Regions from separate parts of the Homo sapiens genome. Here region 1 is linked to region 2. The links come from fine-mapping of genetic effects on gene expression. A gene starts in region 2. The other region holds a variant in brackets. All regions are shown on one strand. Distances are between the middles of the regions.

Region 1 (17,295 bases), 39 kb after region 2:
ATAATTTATTTTTTAGCAGGAATATTGATTAGCAGCTTTTTTTTCTTTATACACATAGATAACTAACTAGATTAATGTTTAGTTTCTTATTTGTAGGCACAGGATGCATGAAATTTCAAGCTCTGGGATTTTTTGTATATTGTGTATCTGTATCAAAAATATCCTCTCCTTTTCAAAAATGACAGGTTGGAAAATGTTTGTCAGACTTATTAACTGGTCATATTATAATAATACTGATAATGACCAACTGCTCATTCTGAAAGCCAAACATAAAAGCTAGGAGAAGTGGCATCTGAACATTTTTGCTTTGCTGCCAGAGTAACCCTGACTAATAATACAATAACAGCAATTTTTTTAAAAAACTGAGATTTCCTACTGGCTTGAAGTTTTTCTATTTAGCAAAATAATTAGTAATAAGTTTTGACTAGGTCTAAAGAATGAACACATTGTAAACAGTTGCCACAGTAGTTTCTAATAAATTGATCATAAAAGCAGCTATCCTTTTTTTTTTTAATTCTAGCTTCTTTTTAAAGATTATTTGGGTACCTAATAAAGGATAATTTATATCTTATTACAGACTGATATTTTGCTTTTTCATGTGTCATCATACTGTCAGTATATTAAAAGAAATTACAGCCTAAAACTTAACATATACCATACATATATATTAAGGTGTCAAATAGCTATTCTCACTCATCTTACAAATATTGTAAGAGCAATAAAAATTAATTGAGGAATTATAAGCCTACAGGTCATCAGCCTTGAGGTGATTACTGATGATTTGGGCTTACACACATGTCAGCAAGATAGGGAGTGTGGATAGGGGAGGGCTGGTAGCTAACAAGGGGCCTCACAGAGAAATATTAGTGACTTTAACCAGGTTTCAGAATCTGGGCCTTACCTTTACAGGTTCAACAAAAGAATGGCATCAATAGAGGCAGAAGTATAGACATTGTTTTAAAAATACACACATGCACACACACACAAAACATTTTAGCATTATAGCTGTCTGAATCCTTCAATAAGAAGGAGAGGCACACACAAATACACACACTCACACAAAACTCAACAACCATAAAACAACCCTGCATGTTATAAAAGGCAGAATTAAATTTTATTTATTTAAATCCATGGAACTCTGGTAGGCCAGGATATATTATAGTACCATTATCAATGTGATATTCTGAAAATATGAACTGAGCGTCATTAACAATTGTTGGTACCTAAACACAAAATGAATTTCAAAAGTTACTTTGTTCTCAAGATATGTCATTCTTTTGGGAATAAATACTTCTGGTGACAAAGTCTTTTGTGAGTTTTTTGCTCTAATTTTTCTCAATTATATTAAATTTCTTTAATATAATTTAAATAATATTTCAACTACCTAGGTAGTTGAAATTTTCCCAACTAAATGTTGAAATACTGTACCCCAGATCAAATTATCTAATGTTTTGTTAGTGAAACCTAAACTGATGATTAAATCGTTCATCAAACCTAGAGATAATAAAAACTATTGGTCTTTTGTTAAAAGCCCATAATGTAGCATCATCAGTAGCTCATTTGTGCTGAAATTTATGACGACTTACTACAAAAGAGTACATTCCAAAAATGTCACATTTGTCTTTCTCAAGTACTATATTATGCCTTACCAAATTATAACAAATGTCCATGCTTCCCTCCATAATTCCCACAGGTCTTTACCATGTAAAAATCCATGCTAAAGAGTGCTAAAGAGAGAAAGAAGTGGAGAATTAATCAGTGATTTTTCAAGTTGTATGAAAGCATTGACCAAGTTATCCATTCAGCCCTATTCAGTACTTGTTTTCACAGAAAACTTAATTCTGTTTTATTTGTATTGCTGGGATGGGAGAGCTCTTACGGAATCAACAAAGAAATAGCATTGTTGGCAAACTGGACATAACACTTCAGCATCTGATGTATTCTGGTTTTTAAGGATTTCAACGATAGGGGGTAGTGTTTGGTGGGAGGATCACTTTGAGCCCAGGAGAGCAAGGCTGCAGTGTGCTGTGATTGCACCACTGCACTCCAAACTAGGCTACAGAGTTGAGACCCTGTCTCAAAAAAAAAAAAAAAAAAAAAAAAAAAAAAAAAAAAAAAAAAAAATCTTAGTTGGGGAGCACCTCGCTGTTTCTTATAACTGGGCATTAAAATGGCCTGAGTATACCTCCTCAATTTTTCAGAGAAATGATACGTCCTTTTAAAATATAAAAGTATCAGAAGTATATAACATTAGCCATGTATTTCACCTACATAAATAGTGACACAAGTCCTGATTCTAAGTGCTATCCAGCAGTATGAAAATTACAACTTTATCACCAAGATGCAAAATAAAAAGAACTAGGAAGGGCAAATTAGTATGCTCAACAGGCAATAATGTTGCAAATTGCTGTCTCATGGAGAAAGCTCTACCCTCCAAAATTTTAGTTAAGGAATAATCATGCCTTCTCTAACAAATGTAAGGGTGATATATTAATAATACATGTCTACTGTCATGGATTTTATTACAGAATTACTATTAAGATTGTTATTGCCTTCTAACTAGTCTTTTCATGTGTTTTATCCACCCCTTAAAAGCTCCTTTTGAGGTAGATCAGCCATTTTACCCCAAAGAGTCAACAGAAAAGTTAAATAAATGCCCCATACAAAGTTGAAACCTGGTTTAATTTTTTTCAGTTCTTACTGATCCTGTGTTCTCCAATACATCATGCTTTCTTAACATGTTAGTTAAATGGTCATGTGGTTTCTTTTATTTGAATGAAAAGTTTAGCTTTACTTTAAATGTTAGAGAAAAATAGTGACATAAAAATACCTAAATTTGAGTAGTTTATGATTAGCTCCTTTAGTGGAATACTTAAGAGATTCTAAAGGGAGAGTTGAGATTATTAAACACTCTTTGGAGTGGTTATGAAGAGAATTTATCAATTTTTTTTCTTTTTACTATTCAAATATATAGGGAGAATTCACTTGGCAAAACCAAGCTGCTGCTGCTGGTAGCAGTTGCCTTTTTGAAGAGGTTTATACCATGATTCTTTGAATAGTGCGCTGTTATTGAGGGCACTGAATGTGTAATGACAGTCCATCCCAAAAGCCAACATGATAGATGTCACTAAGTTCCATACAGATAGATAATTTAAAACAGAAACATAGGTATACTCCATTGTGATACTACTTATAACCCCAAAATTTGCAATAATGATGAAAAGGATAGTTGCTGATGGCTAATATGCCTCTGTACAAAACTGAATCATCTTCAGGTACCAACTTGTTGGAATTAGAAAGAGTCACTTCACATTATTTTGCATTGTACTTTGTATAGTTATGGTTTTTCCTTTGAGTAAATCTTGGCAGAGATAACTCATAGGAGTATAACTCCATAAAAATATTTGGAGGAAGGACCCAGAACAATGAAATAATTGTTGGTGTGAAAGTGAGCCATCTGGAATTTCAGAGTGTGAACTAATTATTGTATATTGTATTTTTTCACCCTTATGTATTTGGGTTTTTTTTTCCCCTTCCTTTCTAACTTCCACCTATCCTAACACACACTATTCCCAATTCTCTAGATGTTTAAGTACAAAAACGTGTGTAAGTATGATTTTTGTCTTCATCAACATCATTTCCTATCTGGCAGGCTGTTGGCCTTAGCAACAGGAGCAGAAACAAGCCTGAGACCCAATAATTGCAAGAAAGAAAAATCCTTTTTAATGAAGCGTTAACTACTCTTGCCCTTCCCATTGCTACATAATGCCTACAGAATTGTTCAAATAGCCATTGTTAATGTCTTATTTCCTCAATGGCCTTTTTGTGATGAACCTTCATATTAAGGCTGCTCTGACAAAGTTTTACATTTGTTTTTGTAAATTGCCTCATTAGAATATCATGCATCCCAGCAGAGAAATGCACCCAATATATATGTGCACTTTGGTTTTCAGATTGCATATTTGGCTGATACTTGTTCATTTAAAATCCCTCAAATTTTCACACCTGGGGAATTTGGAAAGAACAGTGCAAGAGTCATCCAAAATCAACACCACAACTGTATTTCTCTTTGAAAAAGATTAATGAAAAATGCAAACTAAAAGTCACTTTCAATAAGTTTAGCAAAAGGGAATGATTTCAGTAGAAATAACTTTTTTCGAAAACTTTCAGTTTTCCTATAAAAGGATAACATTTTTGTGTTAAAACTGCACATACATTGAAAACAAAAACAAAAACTTTTCAGATACTTTTGGAGAGATTTGTTTTGAAAACAAAGTTGGAGTGAGAATCTGGGAAATAGCAATGCCACATAAAAGCATTAGCTTTATGTAAAAGAAGTACAGTATATCTGAAAATCAGTAGAATAGAAAATCTAAGAAAAATTTTAATATAAAAAATATAGATAAACATAGCTTTAAAAAAGAAAGTCTTTGAAAATGCTGTTTGAGGTGATGTATCTAGAGGAACAAGCCTGGCAAGAGTCAGAGCTGATAGATTGCAGGGGTAATCACTGGTGACCCCACATTGAATGCACTAATGAGACTTTAACACTAGCTGCACAAAAACATCAGATACACTGTCTTCCAATCCTCTAAAATACTCAAAGCACTTTCAAATTAAGCTTTAGTAGAGATTTTTGGTGTCTGGATGAGAACAGCATACAGATTAGGCATCTAGAGGGACATGAGAAAATATTGCAAATAATAGACTCTCATAGGAAAGGTGGCAGGGTACAAAAGATGAACTTGCTGGACATCGCTTATTTTACTTAAAGTAATCCTAGTCTCATGGTTCTTTAGATGCGTAGGGGCAGAAAGATGTGATACCTTTCCTTACCCATCTTAAGAGTCAAAGCTGACACTCCTGTAACAAAAGACAAGAGAAAAACATAAGTGTATTTAATCCAAGTTTTACATGATACACGAGCCCTCAGAAATGAAGACCAAAAGACTCAGGGAAAGCTGTCTATTTTGTGCCTAGGATTGCTGAAGAATGGACAGCCATATAGCAATGTAATTGGATAAAAGAGAAAGTGCTAAACTGTAATAGACTGGTCAGGGAAACCCAGCAAGGCCATCCAGATTCTTCTTGGTGTCTGTAGCATGCCTTCCCCTGGGTATGGGGCAGGACCCTTCTGGAATGAGGGTCATCAAGGGAGAAGGGAGACAGTGACCTTTCTAAGTTTTATGGCTTGCTTTCAGGATAAGAAATTCTGGTTTCTGTGACTTTCTTCAAGGGGAAAAAGAGGTGGAACATAGGAGGGCAGGAGAAGGACAGAAAGACCTTGCCTCTGAAGCTCCTCCAATCTCCTTCAGTTCAAAGTACTCAGCATGCCAAGGTCTCGTATTTGGAATATGGTCTTTTGAGCCCCCAACAGCTGCAAGTTGTAATTACCTCCAGAACAGATGAGTTTATTCAATGAATATGCACACACTGTCATCCAGAAAAAGCTGAACAAACCAGCCTCAAATGGAGAACAGCAGCAAGACGTTCACTTCAGTGCCTTAACATTCATATAATCCAACATCCCCATTACCAACTAACAAAATATTTCCCTACACCCACTATGCTGATTCTTATGAAAAGCTAGGATTGCTATTGCATAATGGTACACAGAAGAGTATGTCTAGAATTTAATGCTTCATGGATATTATACTAGAATTCAGAGTATATTGGGAAAACACACTAACCAGAAAGATGGGAAAAGATGAAGAGGAAGGAAAACAGTGGTAAGATATGGACCTTCTACTATTTGTATATTGAATTAAAAGAGCTAATGATAAACTACCAGGATATATGCAATGTAAGTTATAAGAAAGGACTCTTGAAACAAAAGGGACAACCTGCAAGGGGGAGTCTTGAATTAAATAATTAAATATCTGAGCACAATCTAGTAATATGGTGAAAGGAAAAGCATTCCAAAGTCCACTTTTCTGGGGAGGATAGGAGAAAGAGAACTAGGGCGGAAATGGAAGTATTGTAAGGGTCTTATTTTAATAGTAGGAAATTCTTGGTAAGGGAAATAGTTCATACTGTGTCATCAGGCAATAGCAGAGAAGTATGTACATGATTGTGAAATCAGGGGCAAGAAAATAATCTTTAATGAGGGTGAATTAGAATAGAACTTCCAAATTATCAAGGGGAAATATTGAATTAATAGCAATGTTATCAAGGTAGCAAAACTAAGGAAAAGAAAAAATACAATAAATACACTAATATAAAATAATAAACATAATGTAATATTCTGTGTCCTTGTAAAGGAAGATTTAATATCATGGGGTGTCATTTACCATACACACACACACACACACACACACACACACACACACACAAAATATTTTTTTTTTAATTTAGGAAAAACAATCTAAGAACATGTATGAATGAATGCCTGAGTATAACCAGAAAATATTTTGAAAAAAGAAAACAAGTTTGACCTCCTAGATATCAAGGAATGATATAAAATTATTACAATTAAATCACTTTGGTATTGAGAACAATATAAATAAAATAGGTAACAGAATAGGATTAAAAATACAGGATAAATCCAGAAATAGATCCAGGATATACGTTTCAGTCTCTATATCTAGCTACCTACCTACCATATAAGTAGTAAAAGGATGAATTTATAAATAGAACAAATACAACTGGTTACTCATCTGAAAGGAAGTAAAACTAAAACCAGCTATATCATGTACACGGAAATATATGACTATAAAAAATTTCACAAATTTAGTTTGGCAAAACTTACCATACAAAGTTAAAGGACAAATAATAGATTTGAAAAAACAATTGTTACTCAGAGGACAGACAGAGGGTTAATATCTGTAACATACATAGAGCTCTTCCAATTTGCCAAACAAAAAGTAATCCAATAGAAAAAGAAATGACAAAAGGACAAAGGATGTGAAGAGCCAATTCATAAAAGACTAAGTCTAAATTACCAAAATGCTTACACAAAAATGTTCCAAATACAGAAAATCGTTCCAATTGGGAAATGCAAATAAAGTAACAGTGGGCTGTGGTTTTACATTTATTCAACTTGTTAACAATAGGTGTTCAAGATGATAACACCCATTGATGGGGAGAAAACAACTCACGTTGTTGGAAATCAAGTTTATCACAATATTTTTACAAAGAATCTGTTAAGATATATTAAATGTATATATACTTTTATACTTTTATATATATACTCTTGGGAATATAACTTACAGAAAAATAGTATTAACTAAAAATATATGTACAAGAATAGTTGCTTGAGCATTGCTTTGGGTGACAGAAAACTGGAAAGCTCATCAACAGAG[G/A]AGCAGTTGCATAAATTGTTACATAAACACTGTGAAATGTTTTGCAGCCTTTAAAAAGAATGAATTTGGGCTATATTTTAGGTTTGGAAAAATTTAAATGAGGTGGTGTTGAGACAGCCAAGTAAAAAGGGCTCCTGGAGAATCTCCAACTGGCCTGCACACAGAGAGGACAAGGTGGAGCCGCGGGAAGTTCTTGTTGTTTGCAGAGAGGAGGAGCCTAGCCTCTCCTGTCACTGGGTGGTAACCTGGGATTCAATTGGTGAGATGGGGTCCCATTAACAGGAACCCCTCTCACTTTGCTGAGCTTTTTTTCGTTTTTCACCCAATAAATTCCGTTTTTCTCACCCTTCTATGTGTCCATGAGCCTAATCTTTCTTGGTCGTGTGACAAGAACCCAGTTTTTAGCTGAAACGAGGAGAAAGTCCTACAACCGTGTTAAAGTGAAAGAAAAATATATTATGAAGAGTGTAATACAAAAACTTGTTTTTAAGTTGAAAAGCCCTGTATATTTTTATGTGTTTATATGTGCTGTGTGGGGATGATTACCTGGACATGAAGAAAAATAGAAACAGTGGACACCAGGCTTTTGGTTGGCATCAGTTATCTGTAATGGGCAGATTTGCAAGGAGAAGAGGAGAGAGGTAAAGGCAAAGCAAAAAAGCCACATAAGACTGCTAAAAGAAAATAAAGTATGTAATACTACCACATTTAAGTATTTATGTGGAAATGTCTGTGTGTGTATATACACACATGTATACACAGTAGGAACACCTTATCCAGAGGGAATATGTTCCAAGGCCCTAATGGATGCCTGAAGCCAAAGAGAGTACTGAGCCCTAAACATACTATGTTTTCCTATATGTACATTCCTGTGATAAAGTTTAGTTTTTAAATTAGACACAGTAGGAGATTGACAAGAATAACTAAAAATAAACTAGAACAATTACAACAATATACTGTAATAAAAGTTATGTGAATGTGGTCTCTCTCTTAAGAAATCTTATTTATGTAATATTTCCAGATTGCAATTGACCACAGGTAACTGAAACCACAGAAAGTGAAATCACAGATAAGGGGTGATACTGTATATGCAAATATAAAAATAAATAATTCAGGGAAGAATATCACAGAAATCCTCTTTGACTAAAAGCACCTCTCTATTAATCATCAATATCAGGCCAGCCTCACAGAGCTTAAATCCTTAATGTTCTGCACCATATATACTTCCTGAAATGAACTAGTTTTTGTTTTCTAGAAAAGTTAACTGACAACACATAAATGAAGCATATGAAGAACTTAACACCTGAATTCTTTTCCATTCTCCTTTTCTCCACCAGTCACCATTGTTTCAACTTCTTAGCATCAAGTCTCTTTCTCTGTCCCAAGCCCCAACAACCCGTGGGGCAAGTGTCAGTTCTCACTGCACTTCCAAACTCTGCCCCATTGTTGAGTCTCCCACTTCTCAGTCCAGGGCCCACAGCATAGGAGCAAGAGGTCATGCAAAGAAATAAGTGAGATGTTGTTTTAAGTTGGAATCTGTATTATGCTTTCCTATAGAAACATTTTATAAATCTAGCACAAATTCAAACGTGTACTGGAGTTCACATAATATTGTGCATTAAAGTAGGCTTTTGAAGACTACTCTGGGAGAATAACCACCGGCTTATAAGAACAAACTGTAAATTGGGAACTATCTTTGTGAAAAAATTTTATAAATTATGAAGTTCATATACAAATATTTATGAAAGTGATCTAATTTTGACTTGCTGGTGGACTTCACTCTTATCACTGATTGGAATTATTTTCCTTCAATTTTCACTGCTACCATTGGGACCATCCTGAAGCTCTCCACTAAACCATAGTGGCCAACCTTCAAAGGTAGAAGGTCTTTAGTGAAGGCTTTATTCATAGTCAATTATCACAATTGTTATACTCATTTTTGCTAAAGGGCTTGCTCTGAGTTTTTACCAAATGTTTCCAAACTGAAATAGAAACCACAGGTTACAAGGAAGTGGAAAAGAAAATTAACATATTTTAAGCAACTACCATGTGCCATGGCATTTAATCATTACAATAACTATGAGTAGGTATTCCAAAGAAGGAAACAGACTCTGACAAGTTTAAACAATTTTTCTTTTCTGGCATCAAGTAAGCAGTGGAGCTAGTTCCTTTTTAATGGATAATAACTAATTATTTTTAACTTTTATTTAAATATAGCATATACAAGTAGTTTATAAATCACAAGTGTTTGTTGTTGCATTTTCACAAAGTGAACAAATCCTGTGAAACCAGGCTCCAAATCAAGAGAACAAAAGAACATGACCAGAATCTCAGAAGCCACATCAAGTGTAACCTTTCACTCACAATCTCCTCCCCAAGGTTAACCACTCTCCCAATTTCCAGCACTTCTACCATCAGAGTAGTTTAGATTACATTTGTTTTACTGTTTTTGAACTTTCTGCACATGGAATCATGGAGTATGTACTCTTTTATGTCTGGCTTATTTTTCAACATTATGTTTGGGCAATTCACTGGTATCGTTACATATAGTTGAGCTTGCTTATTCTAATTACTTATTCTAATATCCCACTGTGGGAATATACCACAATTTACTTAACCATTCTAATATTAATAGACATTTGAATAGTCTGTATGTTTAGCTTTTGAATAGTAGTTCCATGAACATTATTGTGCATACATGTCTTCTAGTACACAAATGTACACATTTATGTTGGGTATACACTTAGGAGTGTAATTGCTATGTCATGGGATTTGCATTAGAAATCTTGAATCATTGATGTTCTTTTTAACTTCTAGTTTTCCAAAGTGGTTATACCAATGTACACTCTCACCAGCAGCATATCAGAATACTTATGGTCCACATTCATGTCAATAAAGGCATTCTTTGTAGCTAGGTTTCTGACTCCAATACCCAATGCTCCTTTCCTTTCACCTAAATTTTATTTAAATGTAAGAACTTGGTAACAGTTCTCTTTTATAAATTCCATGATTCTTTCTAAGATTTTCATTCTTTGTTCATTGAGTGATTTTCCTTTTTTGTACTGGAAAACGTATTTGTGCTGAATAGAATTTAGCAGCGTTTTCAGGGTATCAGAGGCCTCATGTAAATATTTATCTTCAGTAAGCCCAGCCTCTTCTATTTTTTCTGCATGGGTAAAAAGAATGGCTGTGTAATTCATCCAAGCATGTCCAAGAAGTTCCTGAAAGAGAGAAGTTAGATAACTATTGAACTTGAACTATATTCCTCAAAAATGAGCAAAGGATTTATTACGGTCCAATATAGATAGCCAGCAGATCCATATTATTATGTTTCTGAAAGCTGATATACAATGTAGGAAATGAAGACAGGGTCAAGTATTTTAAGTAAATGGAGGGAAAAGGCTTGACTTTCTGAAAAAGGCAGGATTAAACAGAGAATTAAATTCTCTCTTTTATTTTACTATGATAATTGATATATACACAACCTCAAAACTGCATATTATCATTGCTGCATAGATTTCTCAACATTCAGTAATCATTTATACTTGTCTGACTACCTGAGTCCATTAAAGCCACTGAATTTAAGTCGGAGGACCTTAGTCAAGGGAATTGTTTTATCTTTTACTTTTATCATTATCATTAAAAGCATCTACTAAAGATATAAAATTACATAATCTGTTAAGAATCTATTGATTAATCAGGTGACATGTAATGGAAAAGCTCAGATAAAAATACATTTGGTGATTTGGACGAACCACAAAATATTATAACTGTGAGTCTCATCTTCTTGACTTCACATGCTTAGAATGGAACCCAATTTATCTGATGACTTCCTCTAATGTGGTTGAAAAACATTGAAGACTGGCATTCCTTTGTTTAGTAATATGTGGAAGTTGGTTATGTAATAAATTCTTGTTTGATTAGTGAATATAAGCTGATATAAAGCAGAAGTAACAGCATGTGGCAAATTGTTCATGTAATATAAAAGGCATCTAGAAATAACCCTTGAACTTTTTGGGATATTTCTAAAGTTACATGAAATCACAATGTGACAACAAAATAACATTACCTCCATTCCGAACACTCCTATTACCAAAATATTTCCAAAGCTACTACTAGTTTATGGCAAGAAAAATACAAAATGCCTAGGAATAAACATAATAAGAAACACCCAAGACCTCTAATAATCAGAAGAAAGAAAGAAAGGAGAAAAACTAACATTTAGTGCCAGATATTATGCTAAGCACTTTACATGCGTTACCTCTTTTGAAGCTTAATGCAATTATTTGTGGGAGATACTATTATTATCTCCATTATGATATTGGCAAACTGACTTATAAAGACTTTGAGTTATATGTATTAGTACAAACTCTGGTTTTAAAAAATTATTGAAAATATTGAAAGACAGTCTGGGAAATCATTTTCAATGTACCTAAAAAATACAGGATTAGAATTTATAATATGGAAAAATTGAAAACAAAGAAAAAAGAAGAAGGAAATAAGAAAGAAAACAGAAAAGGAAGAAAGGAGAAAGGAAGGAAGGAAGGCAAGCAGGAGTAAGGAAAGAAGGAATCTGGATAGGTAAATCTAACATGAAAATACTCGTGAGAACTACGGGACAAAACATTTAAAATTAGAAACATCACAATCATGGTCACCAATTACAACTGATACAGTCTGGCTTTTATCAGATTCATTTATTTATACATCAATTTCTACAACTTCATAGTGAACTCTTTGAAGGCAAGATTCATGTCTTTCCATATCAATCAAAGCTTTTAGCACATTGTAAACTTTCAGTAAACATCTGTTAAATTAATTTGGAATTTAGACCCTCATTGTCATCTCAAATAGAAGTCTTAGGGTTCTATTTATTTCTTTTGAGGTTTTGGTTTTGAAGTATAATTAATCTTTGTAAAGCTTCTTTTTTTTGCAGTTTATCATCATGAATTTGCCTGTAGTCTGGACTATTTTCTATTCAGAGGGACTCTTTCAAGGAATAGGCCCAAACTTTTTCTTCATATGTGTTCAAAATTTTTCTATGTACACCCACCATAGAATAACTGCATATTTCTATTCCTTCTAAAAATACCCTGCTTAAAGTTTCACAATCAGTATATTAGGGAATAATTACTGTAATAGATTATAAACTTTAAAAAATAAATTTTTAAAAAATTAGTATCCATATAATGTCAGCATCCCATTTTGCCTAATGGTAACATAGCAAAATTAGCAGACCTCTTTAGAGTTTGTTGTATATTCTGTATATTGTTAACAGGTCTCTGCTGGAAGAGGAGTCACAGAGTTGCAAAGTAAATGAGCAGTGATGTTATGGGTTGAATTGCATCCTCCGCCAAACTCATGTGTTGAAATTCCGATCCCCAGTTCTTCCGGATGTGATCTTATTTGGAAATAGGGTCATTGCAAATATAATTATTTAAGCTAAGGTCATTAGGGTGAGTCCCTGTCTAGTATGATTGGTGTCCTTATAAAAAAAGGGAAATTTGGGCAAAGACGCAAGTCCCGGGAGAGTGCCATGCGTACGTGAAGATAGCCATCTACAAGCCAAAGAAAGAAGCCTGGAACAGATCTTCTCTCACAGCTATCAGAAGGAGACAACCCTTACAACACCTTCATTTCAGACTTCTAGCCTCCAGAACTGAAAGACAGTAAATACCTGCTGTTTATGCCACCCAGGTTGTGGTACTTTGTTACAGGAGCCCTAGCAAACTAATGCAAGTGGCTAAAAAAATTAATAAAGTACTAAGTATATTAGATCTGGCCTCTGGGAATACAGCAATCCCTGGATCATTTGCATCAGAATCACCTGGGAGGCTTTCTAAAAATGCATCAGAACCATTAGGGCTGGAGCCTGGAATCTGAATTTTATAAAGCATTTTAGATGATTTATTCCTTCTGCAAATATTTATTGAGGGTCTACTTTGTTCTAGGCATGCTCTACATGGTAGGGACAGGTGTGGAACAAGACAGACATATTCTGTTTACAGTTAGTGGAGATTTTTGTGTACTAAATTAACTTGGGAAGGGAGACAGACAGGAAAGAAATACTTTGAATTTGTTTCAATTGCAAGTGTGATAGAAATTATGTTAGCATTATAAAGGTGATCATTTTGCCCATTTTGGGGTGGAGGTGGGAAGTAAGGGTAAAAAGGAAAGACCAGACAAGATGTCTTGCATGTGATGATGCAGTCACCAGATTCTTAAAAAATACATAGGAATTAACAAGGTAATTAATGTAATCAAGCATGATTGAGATTGTACAGCATTGAGATTTTATTTCTAAACAAGTACAGCTATTGATCTTTGATCACTCTTATCTCTGAAAGATTATCAAATTTAGAGCCAGACCTGATATTCACCAAGTACGCTATGAATATGGTCATACTGATTGTCAGATATCAAAATGTTTTCATACAAATTATTAAATAGCTACTGCTCTTAACTCCTTGAGAGCCATCCTAAACTTACCCTTAGATATGTATTGGCTGATGTGTAGATCATACTTGTTATTAAATATTTTTGAGCCCCAGTGACTTAATGAATAAGGTATTTGCCTCCTTAAATATTTTTGAAATACAGTATTGCTACAATAAATGTGCATGCTAAATAAACTATTTGGCACAAACAATCCTTTCTTGAGTTATATATCGTAACACAGAATTATTTTCTTTCTAGGTTAGTACTTAATGAAGTAAATGGTTTAACTTTCATAGTATTTCTTTTGTTCCTGTTTTTCTGTATTGTAACATTAACATGTTCCCTTTTGGTCTCCACCAGACATTTCCCATACTTTAAACCACAATCTCATTCAGAGAACGTGAGTTAAATCACCTAAGGATAATAGATTTGTAAGTGCCATGCCACTTAAAAGTCCATGTGTTCAGCCACTGGGAAGTTTTTACACATTTATTTATGAAAGGATGCTCATACCTTAAACTGTGAGAGAAATTGCACTTTTGAATTACTGCCAAAAACAGAAGAGAGTGGTTGATTTAGCTTAAAATCTTTAAGTCGATTTTGGCCAGAAAATAGTTGAATATTTGAAAGTAGTGTTGCTTGCTGAATAGTCATCACGTTAGTGGCCAAACATGTTCTCTATGGACCCAGAGAAAGAATCATTACAGTTGATTGATACCTCACATAAAAATCCAAAAGCAAGATAAGTTAATGTAAGTTATCTGGTGTTAATAATTTAAATATAGTACTAAGCTAGATGAAAATTTTATGATCAATCATGAATTGTTTGGTTTGAGTGCTAATGGGTATGAGTCCATTTAGTCCTTTTGGGACTACTGGTTAGGATATAAACTTTGTTATCCAGGAATTATGTTCATTTTCCCAGGACCTCACCAGCCCTGCCCCATTTGTTTGTGGTTGATGAAATCATAGCATCTGGACTTTTTAGGGTGAAACAAACAAACAAAAAGCCAACTATTACATCAACTGAGAAAAAAATTATCACGGAACAGGAGGACAATGAGGACCATTTTTTTATACTTTATGCTATTCCCTTACTCTCACCCCAATTAAAACATTACATTTTCCTTTTCAGAGAGCCAAAGCTGAATGATAATTTCTCATTAGGCCAGATCCAGAGAATATTCAACCTCAGAGATCATCTTATAAACTGCCTCATTTTACAGATGAGGTATTGAGGACTTACGGTGTTAAATGACTTGGCCAAAGTCATATGGCTGATTATTGACAGGCTTGGACCTGGAACCAAGGTCCCCCATCTTTCCCACTAAATTGGGGCTCTTCAATTTAACCATACTAAGCCAGTGAAGATTTTTCCAGATTTTTTTTCTAAATTAATAAAAAAGTTACTTCTTATGTTTATAAATCAGGGCCACGTAAATTTGATTTTACTCTTATTTTCTTCATAAGTCTACCAGGATAAACCTAAAAAACACTATTTCCTAATTTTAGGATAAGACAAATACTAACAATGAAATAATAATGGCCAGAGCTATTTGCTGTGCACTTGCCACGTGCCTGTGCCTAAGCTATATCATTTACCGTTGAAAGGGCATTAATCCCACAAGTAACCCAATGAAGCAGACACTACTGTCTTTCTCAATTTACCAATGAAGTTTACAGAAGTTACTTGCCCGAGATCACAAAGCAAATAAGTAGCTAAGACTTGAATACTTTAGAACCCATCTCGTAATCTCTATGCTATCTTGCCCATATCCAGTAGTTCATTTGAATGAGTACTCATTCACAATCTCAGTAGTGATCATAACAATAAAAACAACAATACTAGTAATACTTTACCATTTTCTGTGACCTACTGTAAGTAGGCACAATGCTGAGCATGATGTATTTATTAAATATAATGCTCAGAACTCTTAACATACATAAAATTATCTCCACATTACAAGTAAGGAATTGAAACCAAGAAAGTTTTAGTAACATTTATAGTCATACACCTATGAAGTAATTAGGCTTGTTTTTTTAACTAAATTCTAACAACTAAGCCCACAATCTTCATTTAGTATTTTCAGGCTCTGAATTAGCTTTTCCGAGCTTTTTGTAAACACATTCGTCTGCAACATCAACAGCTCGGTTGTTGATGATGAAATAAAAGTACATGCTTGAAACTTGCTTGTACGCAGTAATAATACAGAATACCATAATGGGGGGGGGGGGGCGGAAATGGACCATAGGCAATACCTAGGTACAATTCCTACTGCAGCTTGGCTGTATGCCAGCTCTTTCCTTGAGGTGACTATATTATATCTTCTCTGATTCATTATTTGTGGGTTTATAAACATTCAAATGAGATTCCAGATAATATTTGAATAAATTCTTCCTTCTATTTCTTGATTTTGGGGACATGACTCACTGATATCTCTTTCATTTTACTGTAAATTAATAAAGGCCTAACAAAAAGAAAAAGGGATCATTTGGGGAAAATGTTTCCATCGTCACAGCCAGTAGAATATAACTCCTCTGCAAAATATTAGAGTACAAATTGGGGAAGATATTTAAAGAGACAACCGGGAGGCATGGGAAAGAAGAAGCTACTTCTCTGACTCTGGCTTGGTAGGCTCCTTCTACAGTACTAGTCAGTGCCCCTGAAAAGGGGTAAAAGAAAGAAGGCAGATACTCCATACTCCATTTTGCATCAGCCAGGAAGAAAAAGAAATCCATAGTGTGCCTGAAACCTGAGGACCTAACAGCTTCTTGCTCCTTCCTAACAGCTGCTGGTCCTGTTGAATATTCAGACACTCTGCAACAGCTTCCAATCTGTGAGCACATACAGATGGCTGCCACCAGTATCTGAGGCACCTTCAGGAAGATCACAAACAGCCAGCCTGTGCTTAAGTGACCATCAACCAAAGACCGTAGCAGAACCCTGGAATAGGTCTGCAGTGCTCCCAGGGATCATAGGCCACTCAAGATTATTAAACCTTGGCTGCTGATTTTCTTGGGAGACGGAAGTTATTTATTTCAGAAAGAAATATTTGGGATCTGAGCTTTGCCCTAGCTCATCTCCTTGCTGCCTTCAGTTCCTGAATTGCATACTGATTTGGAAGGCATCTGTAAGAGAAGACTATATGCCAAATATTGTTTTAAACGACCAAAGACATGTATGAATTGAGTTCACATATATAAAAAAGACTCACAGATGACATTATTGTCCCATATGCTAAAACTATTAAAACCTATTTTCAAAATGTATGATATTTAAAATAACCTTTTGGGCTCAGCATAGGTTCATGGTAGGGAAATATTGAGACGTATGGAAAGAGTCAGGGTAGCTTTTGAAAAAGAGTTGTTTATGTGTTTACTGCATTTACTGAATTATATCCATCTATAGCCTCATCTAAATGTTTACTTAATAATAGCTTTAAATGAATTTTTAAGAACTGTCTAAAGATTATACTGGTGTCATGGATGCAGGCTTCCCACCACTTGATTTCTACCAGAAACATTGCTTGAAATACAGGCTTTCATAATTTGGAGG
Region 2 (12,856 bases):
TGCAAGAAAGATCAAGGCAGTATTATTGCTCCTAATATCCCCAAGCTGGAGACAATTTAAATGTCCAATGGTAGGTAAATGGTTAAATAAATTGTGCTTTATTCACCTGTATACATAATGAAAAATAAGCAAACTATAGCCATATTTAATAGCATAGATGAATCTTAGAAATATAATATTGAGTGAAAAAAGTAACATAAAATATTCCAGTTTTCATAAAACTCAAAAACAAAAAATAAAACAAATAATTCTGGAATACTTATATCTATTGTAAGAATATATTCAATAAGTAAGGGAATTTAAAAAAAATACTCAGAATATGGGTTACTACCAAATTAAAGTGGGGTAAGGTTAGGGAAAAATTCATAAAAAGCTTCAAAAATCTTGAGTAATAGCCTAGTTTTTAGCTGGTGAATTAATGGGTGTTCATGTTATCATTATGCTTGGTAATTTCCATGCTCTGTATCTATATTTATCTACATATGTGTGTGTTAATACCACATATTTCATAATTAAAAGAATTTAAATAAAATAAATTGATTCTCAACAAAAGCAAAAGAGTTCAACAGGAAAAGGAAAGTCCTTTTTACAAATGGTGCTGGAAAAAGATATTCATATAAAAAAATAATAACCTCAACTTCTACTGATACATCCACAAAAATCTAAGATGGAACATAGGCTTAAGCGTAAAAGGTAAAACTGTTAGTCTTCTAATTGAAAACATAAGCGAATATCTTTACAACCTTAGGCTAGGCAAAGATTTCTTAGACACAATAGAACAAAGCACTAGCCACAAAAGACAATTTTGACAAAGTAGACTTCATCAAAATTAAAAACATCTGCATATCCAAAGGCACCCCTGAGAAAATAAAAATTCGAGTTAAAGGGAAATATTATTTACATCTGTCTGTATATACATATGACATTATGTATATATATGACCTTTTAAAATCAAACATATGTGTGTCTGTATATAATTGACCTGTATTCGGAGTCTATAAAGAAATACCACAATTCAATAATAAAACAAGCCAATACATAAATAGGTAAAAGTCACAAACATATTTTCACACAAGGCATGAAAATAATAAGCACATGAAAAAGTTCTTAATATCATTAATTGGGGGAAATGCAAATGAAAATCACAATGACAAACCTTTAACTTCTACAATGGCTAAAATTTAAATGACTGGCAGTAACAAGTGTTGAGAATGTGGAAGTGGAGCTTTGCTATATTGCTAGTGGGAGCGTAAAATGGCAAAAGAATTTTGGAAAATATTTGGAAAACTTTTCTAAAGTTAAAAATATCCCTAACTTATGACTCAGAAATTCCACTCTTTAACCAAGAAAAATGAAAACATTTGTCCATAAAAAAAAACACTGTATGAGTATGTTCATAGGAACTGTACTCTTAATAGCTAAAAACCAGAAGCAATGCAAATGTCCCATAAGTGAATCAATTAACATATTTGTACCATGAAATTCTATTTAACAAAAATGGAACAAACATGTCAAAACATGGATATACTCAAAAACATAAAGTTTATGAAAGAAGCAGACACAAAAGAGTTCATACTGTATGACTCCATTTAAATGTAATTCCAGAACTATAGTTCTAAACTATAGTATTAATAAAAAAATCAGAAGATAGTACTGTAGATGGGGGAGAGGGGTTGAATAAGCAGAGAAACAGAGGAACTTTCTGTAGTGGTAGAAATATTCTCTATCTCGATTGTGGTGGTAGTGGTTTTATGGATGAGTACATGCATCAAAACTCATTAAATTGGCCACTTAAAATCAATGTGTTTTAATATGTATCAAATTTTATCTCACACAAAATAAAACAGCTTATGAGAAGATAAACACTGCTATACATTTTCAAAGCATCAAACGTAACTAGAAAATTGTAAACATTTCAGACAGAAAAAACTGATTCTGCTATCAACAAGTTAAAGTGAGACTGGCATTCTCATCAGCAATAATGAAAGTCAGAAGAGAGCCTGGTGCAGTGGCTTGTGCCTGTGATCCCAGATACTTGAGAGGCTGAGGTGGGAGGATCACGTGAGGTCAGGAGTTTCAGACCAGACTGAGCAACACAGTGAGACTCCAGCTCAAAAAAAAGGAAAAAAAAAAAGTTAGAAGACATGGAAGGATTGAGAGTTGAAGGAAAATACTTTTGATTCTATATACAGCCAAATTATCAGTCATAAGAGCAAATTATAATTTACAGCTATACGAACATTAAAAAATAAAATTACCTTTCACTTGCCTTTTGTGAGCAAGTTTCCTTAGGATATATTCCAGGGAAATAGGGGGAAGCCCAATAACAGAAGATGAGGGGCTAAGAAACAATGTTATTTACCCAAGAATGAATATAAGCCCAGGATAGGAGCAATACAAAAGGACTAGAATGCAATCTGTTCAAATTAAACAGAAAGCCATTGGGCTTTAAGGGGAAAATCTTCAAACAGAGGAATGGAAGCTTGCTTCTATGTGCATCATACAAAGAATGAGAAGATTCAGTGAAGAAAGCACATCCACCTACCTATTCCCCAGGAGAAAGCAGAAAGGCAATTAAGAAAGTGGGGACGGTTAAAAACTATGTATTACATACTCCAAAATATAAAGCATGCTCAACTACAGCATATTTTGCCCTTGGCAGGAAAGAAATAAAAACCCATTTGACCTTGATATCATAAATAATCTCCTTAGTATGGCACAGGGATCATGAAGTTAAAACTCTGGGGAAAAAAACATATCAGAGCATACAGCTTGGACTTGCTCTAAGTAACAACTATAAAGCCATAATACTGTAAACATTTTATTTTTTTTATTGGTTTTTGGCACGTGAATAAAGCGCAAATGTTATAGTTAAGAAATATATTACTAACTTTGACAATGTACAAGTAAATGTCCAGCTAAGAGAAAGTGGGCATAAATGTAGTTTCTGAAGTGATAAAGAAAAAGGTAGAATCACTACTTTTCTCGTTTTACCAAACAAGGAGTCAAATATATTTTCAAAAGTTGATGTGAAAAAAGTAGTTTACGTATATTATTTTGAATTATAAAGTAACCAATACAAAAACTAAAAATTATGATTATGACTCTTCCAAAATTCAGAGGAGATTGTGAATGGTGTGGGCTATTTCTAGAAGTCAACGGAAAAAGAATTAGCAGTTCAACTTAGGGCTATCTCAAGAAGTCAACAAAAAGAATTAACAGTTTAACTTATTATTTAACCTACAGACCTAAAATTAGAAAAGGTTAAAAGTGGTTATCTTTGAAGAACAGTACTGAGAGTAGGACAGGTGAGACAGTTGCACTTTATTATTCAATCCTACTACGCTATACTACTTGATTTTTTTTTTTTTTTTTTTTTTTTTTGAGACAGAGTCTCACTCTGTCATCAAGGCTGGAGTGCAGTGGCATGATCTCGGCTCACTGCATCCTTCCACCTCCCGGGTTCAAGCGATTCTGTGCCTCAGCCTCCAGAGTGGCTGGGATTACAGGCGCCCGCCACCACGCCCGGCTAATTTTTGTATTTTTAGTAGAGACGGGGTTTCACCATCCTGGCCAGGCTGGTCTTGAACTCCTGACCTCAGGTGATCCACCCGCCTCGACCTCCCAAAGTGCTAGGACTACAGGCGTGAGCCACCGCGCCCGACCATTTTATTTTCAATCAGATGTCTTTATCATCACATAGCTGAAAATAAAATAACCAAATAAAACACAATGATCGAAAAAGATAAAACACTAATTAGCATAATCAGTGTTCTTTTTCCACTACCTCTTAAATGGTTGTACATAAAAAGGCTCACACACAAAAATACACACACATACATTCACTTACACCTCGTGAGTGGAAGAAAACTACCGGGGGAAAAAAAACGTAGAGATGAGAGATTAGATGAGGGAAACAGCAGTGCAAGCAGTTGGGCTTGAAAATTCATTCATTCAACAAATATTTTGAAGCCCCTATTTTAAGTCAGTTGTTTTTCCAGCTGGTGGGCAAAGGATAATGAACAAGTCAGACTCTGTGCCCTCAAAGAACTTAGAGTTTTAAACGACTCGAATGGGGAAAGAAAGTAAAAAATAGGGCAAAAGACGCCGATTTTATCATGAATAAAATTTCACATTTCTTCAACAGGAAAATGATACTAATTCATTTATTTTATATATACATTCTCTCAAGAGGTTATTTTTGTCTCAAATAGATAGAAACCAGGACAGGGATCCTTGAAAAGCAGCCACTGACAATCCTCAAGTAACTTCCTTCCTCTGCTTCACTTTCTCCTACTGCTCAAGGGGGTGTTACACTTTGACGACTGACTAAACCTCGAGGGCCAGAAACAAACCAAAGCAAAATTCTGCCTCCAAGGTGAGTAATGGAGGGGCGGATTCTAGATTCTCTAACCTCCTTTAGCCTTCCTTTGAGGCAGTGACAGAGCGATTACTAAGCCTACGGTTCCCAAACGACTCAGGTGAACCTGATTTACAGGAAAGGCGGGCTGTAGCTAGGGATGGAGACAGTACCTATCAGCAAGCGGCTCCACAGCTCGGTTCTCTATCTATTCTGAAGACATGCGGGGCCACTCACTGCTCCTGATAGTCCTCTACCTCCCACAGACCCCACCCACTACGACACGGAAAACTGGATTACCCAAATACCTGCCTCTGAGTCTGGGGACGCAGGCAAGCACAAAGACAAGGGGGATGGAGCTTCTACACAGGGCCCCAGCGCTGTCGCTGTGGCTGCTGCTGCCGCTACGGCTTAGTGCACCAGACGCTGCATTTCAGGTGCTCCTACAAAAGAGGCCACTCCTGGAACGCCGGGAGCTCAGACGCTGCCCTTTGCTCGCGAGCCAAGTCAGCCAAGGTTAACCTTCGCGGAACCCGGCGAGGAGCGCAAGCCTGGCCTTCCCCAAACACAGATCCGAGCTTTTCACCCTCTACCCTCCCCTCAGCCTGGCCTTTTCTTCCGCCCTCACAGCCACCGCGACCCAACGCTGAGGAAAGACCCCGACTTGTGGTGTCCTTCCCCTTGCCCAAACTGGCCACGAAAGGACATATAGCGAGAGAGAAAGAGGTGCGGGGGGACGGGGGGGGTCGATTGAAAATACTGGGTGAGGGAATGGAAGACGAGGAGCGTGGTATGGCAGGTTAATGGGACTGAGCACAGGAAGAGGAAGAAAGAATTGAGGGTTGAATCTGTAGAACACTCAGGCTTTCAGCAAGGACACCTCATTGGGTCCTTTCTCACTGCTATAGTACGCGGGTGGCTGGACCTACATGCTTCCTGCTGTGGCTGTCTCGGAACCCGTGGTCCTCCGCTTCATGTGAGTGACGTCGTGGCGGGTCACTCACTCGGGGATCGCCGATTGCGATCGTAGGGGTCTTCCTTCTCTAACTTGCCTCCAGGAGAGAGGACCTGGCCTGCGCTGCTAATGGGTAGTCCGTTCGCAGCAGGACCAGCCCTGGCCTAAGGAAACAGGAAAGAGTTTGAGACTTCCTTCTAAAGGAGCCACGTTTGAGAAATGGGATGCAGGCCTAAGTTAAGAATGCTACAGAAAAATATCGATCCCTAAGCGTATTTACTGTTATGTGAATGTGTGTGTCAAAGGACTTAGGTGCTTTGGGGGAGAGGAGGGTGAAGACAGGAATTTATTCATTGAGCGAATAGTTATTAAGCGCCCACTCTATTCCAGACACCGTTCTAGGCATTAGGTGAACAGCAGTGAACAAAACAGACGGAAATCTGTGTCTACTTGTAGCTCACATTTTAGAGAGGAAGGCACATACTAAGCAAAGTAATTAGAAACATACTGTATTTTAGGTCGTGATAGTCCTGAAGAGAAACGTAAAGCAGGGAAGAAGGGTATAAAGTGACACAGGAAGGTCTTGCTGAAAAGATGACTTTTAAGTAAAGGGCTGACAGAAGTGGGAGATTTAACCACGCGAATATCTTGGGAAAGTGCAGTCAGACAGAGGGACCAGCCATTGCAGAGGTCATGAAGCAGAAACGTGCTAGAATAGCAAGGAGGCCTGTAGGGCAGAGTTGAGTGAAGGGTTTAGTCCTTCACTGGAGATTAAATCAAGGCGAGCAGGTCATGAAGATCTTGAGGACATCTAACTTTTATTCTAAATGAAATAGGACTTTGGAGCGTTTTGAGCAGTAGAGTGATGGGCTCTGACTTCCTTTTAAGAGGGTCACTCTTTAAGGAAAATACACAGAGGAGGACGTGGTAGGAGAAAGGAGACCAATAAGAAGAGTTTTGCAATAATCCAGAGGAAGCATAATGGTGGTTTGACTATGGGTGGTAAGAAATGGCCAGTTATATTCTTGATGCACTTAATTTGGATATGTAAGAGTATTATAGATGACAGGGTTAATTTTATTTAATTAGGCTTTGGAGGACACTTGAAAAATGAATTCCAGTGTGAGTTTCAGAGTGGCAAACACAAGTTAAAATCATGGCTTTGCTATGTGGTACTTGAAGGGATTCAGATAAGTCATGTAATTTTCCTGGATCTGTCTATAAAATGGAAATCACATCTGTCAAGATTGCAAAGGTTAGGGTATATTATAGGTATTTAATGACAAGGTATGTAATGGGTCTAGTCTGCAAATCTTAACCAGGTAAAAGATGGCCTTATTGTGAGGTAAGAGGGTCATGGGAGGCCAAGGCATACTCCTTTTTAAATTTTATGGACTCTGTACTGGGGAGGAAAGTTTTTGTGTTAATGACGATGGTATTTAGAAATGCATGGACTGGCCTCTCATAGCTGTCCACCCTATAGTCATTCCTTATAGCCATCCTTTAAACCCTCCAGGACCCCCTATGTCCTCATCAGTAAAGGGAAAGCAGGCTGTCTGGTAAGGGAAATAGGAACTTCCATAAAAAAGCAATTTTAGATATTCTTTTTATAGGTTTTGGCAAAGGTTGATAAAAGACCTAGGGAATTACTGCTGGTTGCTGCGCTTACATATTTTGAGTGTCTTCAGATGCATTGTTCTCAGTGTATTTAATTTTCTTCTTTAAATTCTGACTTTTGACACATATGATTTAAATCCTAGCAGGAATTTTCACCTAGTGCTAAAAGGTACCACATTGCTTTACACTATAATAAGGACGGTCTTTCAGTGTGGGGTATTTTATGTATACTATAATATTTTTACATATCCAGTAATTAGATTGTGTAGCAAATCAGGGAAAGAAGTTGGAAGGCAAGAATAGGAATGAAGGGAGGAGAAGAAAGGAAGAAAATGATTAAAATTACTATATTCCATCAATTCTGAGATACACATTTTTCTCTTACTTAACATCTCTGAAATAGGGATGTATTTTTAAGTTGTTGACATCTTTAAATCACTGTAGATGAATTGGCAGTTGTGAGATATTTGTCATTGCCCACACTTACACCCACTTAGTCATAACTTAATCTTGTCATTATTTCAGTTGAGTTATATATGCACTATTGGCATATAGTTGTTGAGTGTAATTTCCCTTTTAAAGATCATTTAGAAGATTATGATTAGCATTAGAATGAAAAGTTACTGTGTATGTGGGGAAACAAAGGGTGATACAAGATAAAAATCCAGGGTTAAATTTAAAAGAAGTCTGTCAATAAATAATATAGGATGTGTCTAAGTAATAAGAAAGCATTGGGTCAGTTGATTCAATAGTGTTTTTTTTCATAATGTACATAAAATAATAGAGCTTCTTGGGATTGAAGCCATTTTACAATTGATGGCATTTTAGATTTCTTGTATAGTATTTAAAGCTTCCAACAAAAATGTAAATTTTTACCTACTGTAATTCTGAAATAGGGAAATTAGAGGTTTTGAGTAGAGACACTTTCAAATTTGTGTAGCGTTCCTATATAGCATAAGAATTCTAAAATTAAAAGTCTGCCTGTAAAACTTTGATTTCAAAGTAGTAACTTACTTATGTTTGATTCCCAATGTTGTCATCGTGGGGCAGAGATTTTGCTTTTTCAAAAAGATTGCAGGCAATTTAGATGGTGTGGGTGGGGAGGACTACTGAGGAAATTGCTCAGTAAACAAAAATGATAGTGAAGATCTCAGAATCTCAAAAATCATCTTTTGTGTGTGTATTTTAATGATTAAGATGTACTATAAATTCATGTACAGTATTTGGGATTCTGCATTAGAGGCATCGTATGATTAATGGCTTTTTAGGTTTGATGAAGTATGATAATTAACATTGAGAAGGACAAAATTAATGTGAAGGGACAGAATGATTTAGATAATATGTTTCAAAAGCTTTTGTCCTAAAAAATGCATTATTACCATTTTAATTTAGTAAAGGAAAAAGAAAAGGTCTTGATCCTCACCAAACACAATTAACATACTTGGTCTACAGTTTTCTGTGCTTCTCTCTTCATAAATGTTTTATATTTTCAATTACTGTGCATGTCATTCTTATATCTATTTTAATCTCACAGTCTTAATTTTTTTACATTTTAGTCCAGAGACTTAAACTAGCATTTCCTAAACTGTTTTAGAGAATACTAGTTCAAATAAATGTTAATAGCTGTTCCTGTGTTAGGATTCTGTCATTAAATATATTGGAAAATGCTTCGTAATTATATCCTTTAGAGAAATTATAGCTAGAGCATTAAAAGAGCTAACTGCAGCATCAGACAGACCTGAGTTTCAATCCTCGTTTACTATGTATTACATGAGGCAAATTAATTTTAATTCAAGTTTTCTTCTCTGTATAATGGAGATTATTACAGTATTCGAAATTGACTTGTGTAAAGCATTTAGCCAGCCATAGCGCATGTTCTACAAATATATGTAGTTGTTATTATCATCTATGAGAAACTTTATACATATTAGAAACTCTGAGGATTTAAAATTTTGAAGGTTGACTTATACTCAATGTAAAATTGAAAAATCACAGGGGAGTAATTAGCATAGAGATTAATGAAATGAGCACTGGGTTGAATGGTAAAAGATTTGTTTGAGCTTTAAGCAGTATTGTTGTTAAACTATCACTGTGCCCTAAGCGTAACATTATTTTAAAAATGTCTTCAACTGTGTTTCCCCCATTTGTCTGAAAGCTTAGTTAGTTCAAAGAACATGTTTATTTTTGTTCTCTACTATAAACCCAGCACATGACACAAAATCAGGGAGTGTAAAGTTGGGGTCATGAACTTATTTTAGGAGCCTGGTAGGTAATATAAATGGCAGACAACAGGGAGTAGTAAAGTGTCTGTCTGTCTTACTTAAAGACATTCACATCAGTTATTTCCAACACTGTTAGCCCTGGAAAAGAAAGCTATCCCTGAACTTTGTCAGGCTAGTTTGTGATCCCTAGAAAAGATTAGTGATTAAGACCAAACCCTGAAGAACAGCATCATTAATGGGACAGATTAAAAAAAAAAGGAGCCCTGAAAGGAGGTGACAAGGAAGTAGGAGGTGAAATCAGGTACAAGTAATTTTTTAAATTAAGAAAAGTATAGCCCTCTCCCTCTCCCTCTCCCTCTCCGCACCGTCTCCCTCTGATGCCGAGCCGAGGCTGGACTGTACTGCCACCATCTTGACTCACTGCAACCTCCCTGCCTGATTCTCCTGCCTCAGTCTGCCGAGTTCCTGGGATTGCAGGTGCGCGCCGCCACTCCTGACTGGTTTTTGTATTTTTTGGTGGAGACGGGGTTTCACCGTGTTGGCCGGGCTGGTCTCCAGCTCCTGACCGCGAGTGATCTGCCAGCCTCGGCGTCCTGAGGTGCCGGGATTGCAGACGGAGTCTCGCTCACTCAGTGCTCAATGTTGCCCATGCTGGAGTGCAGTGGCGTGATCTTGGCTCGCTACAACCTCCACCTCCCAGCCGCCTGCCTTGGCCTCCCAAAGTGCCGAGATTGCAGCCTCTGCCCGGCCGCCACCCCGTCTAGGAAGTGAGGAGCGTCTTTGCCTGGCCGCCCATCGTCGGGGATGTGAGGAGCCCCTCTGCCCGGCCGCCCAGTCTGGGAAGTGAGGAGCACCTCTTCCCGGCCGTCATCCTGTCTAGGAAGTGAGGAGCGTCTCTGCCCAGCCGCCCATCATCTGGGATGTGGGGAGCATCTCTGCCCCGTCGCCCCGTCTGAGATGTGAAGAGCGCCTCTGCCCGGCCGCGACCCTGTCTGGGAACTGAGGAGTGTCTCTGCCCCGCCGCCACCCCGTCTGGGAGGTGAGGAGCGTCTCTGACCGGCTGCCCGGTCTGAGAAGTGAGGAGCCCCTCCGCCCGGCAGCCGCCCCGTCTGGGAAGTGAGGAGCGTTTCCGCTTTCCGCCCGGCAGCGGCCCCGTCCGGGAGGTGGGGGGCAGCCCCCGCCCGGCCGGCGCCCCGTCTGGGAGGTGGAGGGCGCCTCTGCCCGGCCGCCCCATCTGGGAAGTGAGGAGCCCCTCTGCCCGGCCGCCACCCCGTCTGGGAGGTGTACCCAACAGCTCATTGAGAACGGGCCATGATGACGATGGCAGTTTTGTCGAATAGAAAAGGGGGAAATGTGGGGAAAAGAAAGAGAGATCAGATTGTTACTGTGTCTGTGTGGAAAGAAGTAGACATAGGAGACTCCATTTTGTTCTGTACTAAGAAAAATTCTTCTGCCTTGGGATGCTGTTAATCTATAACCTTACCCCCAACCCCGTGCTCTCTGAAACATGTGCTGTGTCCACTAAGGGTTAAATGGCCCCTGCTCTCTGAAACATGTGCTGTGTCCGCTAAGGGTTAAATGGCCCGTGCTCTCTGAAACGTGCTGTGTCCACTAAGGGTTAAATGGATTAAGGGCGGTGCAAGATGTGCTTTGTTAAACAGATGCTTGAAGGCAGCATGCTCCTTAAGAGTTATCACCACTCCCTAATCTCAAGTACCCAGGGACAAACACTGCAGAAGGCGGCAGGGCCCTCTGCCTAGGAAAACCAGAGACCTTTGTTCATATGTTTATCTGCTGACCTTCCCTCCACTATTGTCCTATGACCCTCCCAAATCCCCCTCTCCAAGAAACACCCAAGAATGATCAATAAATACTAAAAAAAATTAAAAAAAAAAAGTATAGAAAATTTAGATAACTTTACCAAGGTCACACAGTCTAAGTATATATAAGCAAGCCCAAGGGTATATATACCCATGTTCCTCTGCCAGTGCTAGTGATCATTATCTGCATGTTACTAGAAAACATTAACATAAACTTATGCATCCAACCTATATTTTTAAAAAATTTAAATGATAATTAATCAACAAGTATTAGAAAACCTGTTTCCAGAGCTTCTGTTCTAAAGACAGCAAATGGCTTTTAGCACTTGAGCACAGTTCTGTTAACACACAGACGTAACTAGAAGTGAAATATTTTTAGATTTCACAAGATGAGACTTTTTAACATTGGCATCATGAATAATATTTCCAGATACCCAGTTATCTAGGACTGGAGAAGAAGTAGAGTCTGGGCGCCAGTGCAATGGCTCACACCTGTAATCCCAGCACCTTGGGAAGCCGAGGTGGGCAGATCAGTTGAGGGAGGTCAGGATTTCGAGACCAGCCTGGCCAACATGGTGAAACCCCATCTCTACTAAAAATTCAAAAATTAGTCAGGTGGCAGGCACCTGTAATCCCGGCTATTTGGGAGGCTAAGGCAGGAGAATCGCTTGAACCCAGGAGACGGAGGTTGCAGTGAGCCAAGATCGTGCCACTGCACCCCAGCCTGGGTGAAAAAGGAAGACTCTGTCTCAAAAAAAAAAAAAAAAAGTTTTATCACTTCTTTTTATCACATTGTTTCCTTTTAGTAGTTGCATATGTGTATTTAGTGTTTAGTTCATTTGTATTTCTGTATTTTGAAACATGACATTCTCTTTCCTAAACTTATGCTTGTTCTTCAATATGTATTATAAAAGTCATATTTTATGTAACTAACTATTCCACTTATATTTTGCAAATAGTTAACAGATTTATCAACTCAGTAAAATTGTATTTTTTTCTCTTAGGCTAGGATTTATTATCTCTATTTTCAAAATTACTGTTATTCTTAGAAGATTTTTTATATGTTTCTGTATGAGTCAGAACATGAGTTTCTTTTTTTGATTTTTCAGCAACTTGGTGGGTATTTATTTTTGAAGGACTGTCTAGAACTGTTGGCTTATTTATGAGCATTATTCTTTATGGACTATTATTTTAACAGTTTAGAAAAATACAGACCAAAAGAGCACAAAAATTCAAATGAAGATACCACCTTTAAACTCTGCTATTTTTACCAAAATGAACACAGAATACCATGTTGTTACTTAAACGTTTGCAAAGCCAGAATTGTAGAGAAAATATCTTAATAGAAATGGATATATGAAGAAAGTTAAAGTAAAAAAAAAAAAAAAACTATGCTCTTCTGAATTTTAGTATCCTGAGTACAGCATTTCTTTAGTTTTTGATGTCTTTTTATTTTAGTCTAACATAAGTAATGATGAAATATACTCAATAGGTAAAATGTAGCTATCACAAACAATAATGAGTATCTGATTAGGCAGAATTGGCAAGTTTTACATCTCTAGCAAAGACATATTTGATGAATAATACTAAAATGAATGAATTGGTGCATTTTAGAAAAATACATTTTGAAAAGATATGGCTCAAATCATCTTATTCAAATTTCAAAATTAAGAGAAAAACTAGAAAACTAGTATCAGCTAATATGAAACAAGTAGATTTAAGTATAGACTGATGCTCAAAAATGAGCCAACAGATCTAGACAGTCACCTCAAAAATAAATACCAGCCAGTGTATTGTGGCTTTTCAGAATATTTTTTATATAGGATTGGTATTATATAATAATTTGAAATTTTCAAACAATCTGTTACGTGTCTATTATCTA

The links.
Region 1: its variant is fine-mapped to the expression of AIMP1 in whole blood (TOPMed, PIP above 0.99).

What each region holds. Positions count from the first base shown.
Region 1 is chr4:106,347,922-106,365,216 of GRCh38, forward strand. It overlaps GIMD1 (GIMAP family P-loop NTPase domain containing 1), which reads right to left. Exons shown (of 3, transcript NM_001195138.2): 3 at 9,471-10,522. The coding sequence ends at 10,262. It overlaps AIMP1 (aminoacyl tRNA synthetase complex interacting multifunctional protein 1), which reads left to right. Exons shown (of 7, transcript NM_001142416.2): 7 at 1-1,535. Among named protein-coding and RNA genes, the nearest start is that of GIMD1, 12 kb to the right of the region's middle. The variant G/A (reference allele first, on the strand shown) is at 7,302.
Region 2 is chr4:106,311,259-106,324,114 of GRCh38, forward strand. AIMP1 (aminoacyl tRNA synthetase complex interacting multifunctional protein 1) reads left to right here and starts at 5,292. Exons shown (of 7, transcript NM_001142416.2): 1 at 5,292-5,336. It overlaps TBCK (TBC1 domain containing kinase), which reads right to left and starts at 4,951. Exons shown (of 26, transcript NM_001163435.3): 1 at 4,673-4,951. RefSeq lists enhancers at 4,531-4,620, 4,701-4,760, 5,251-5,500.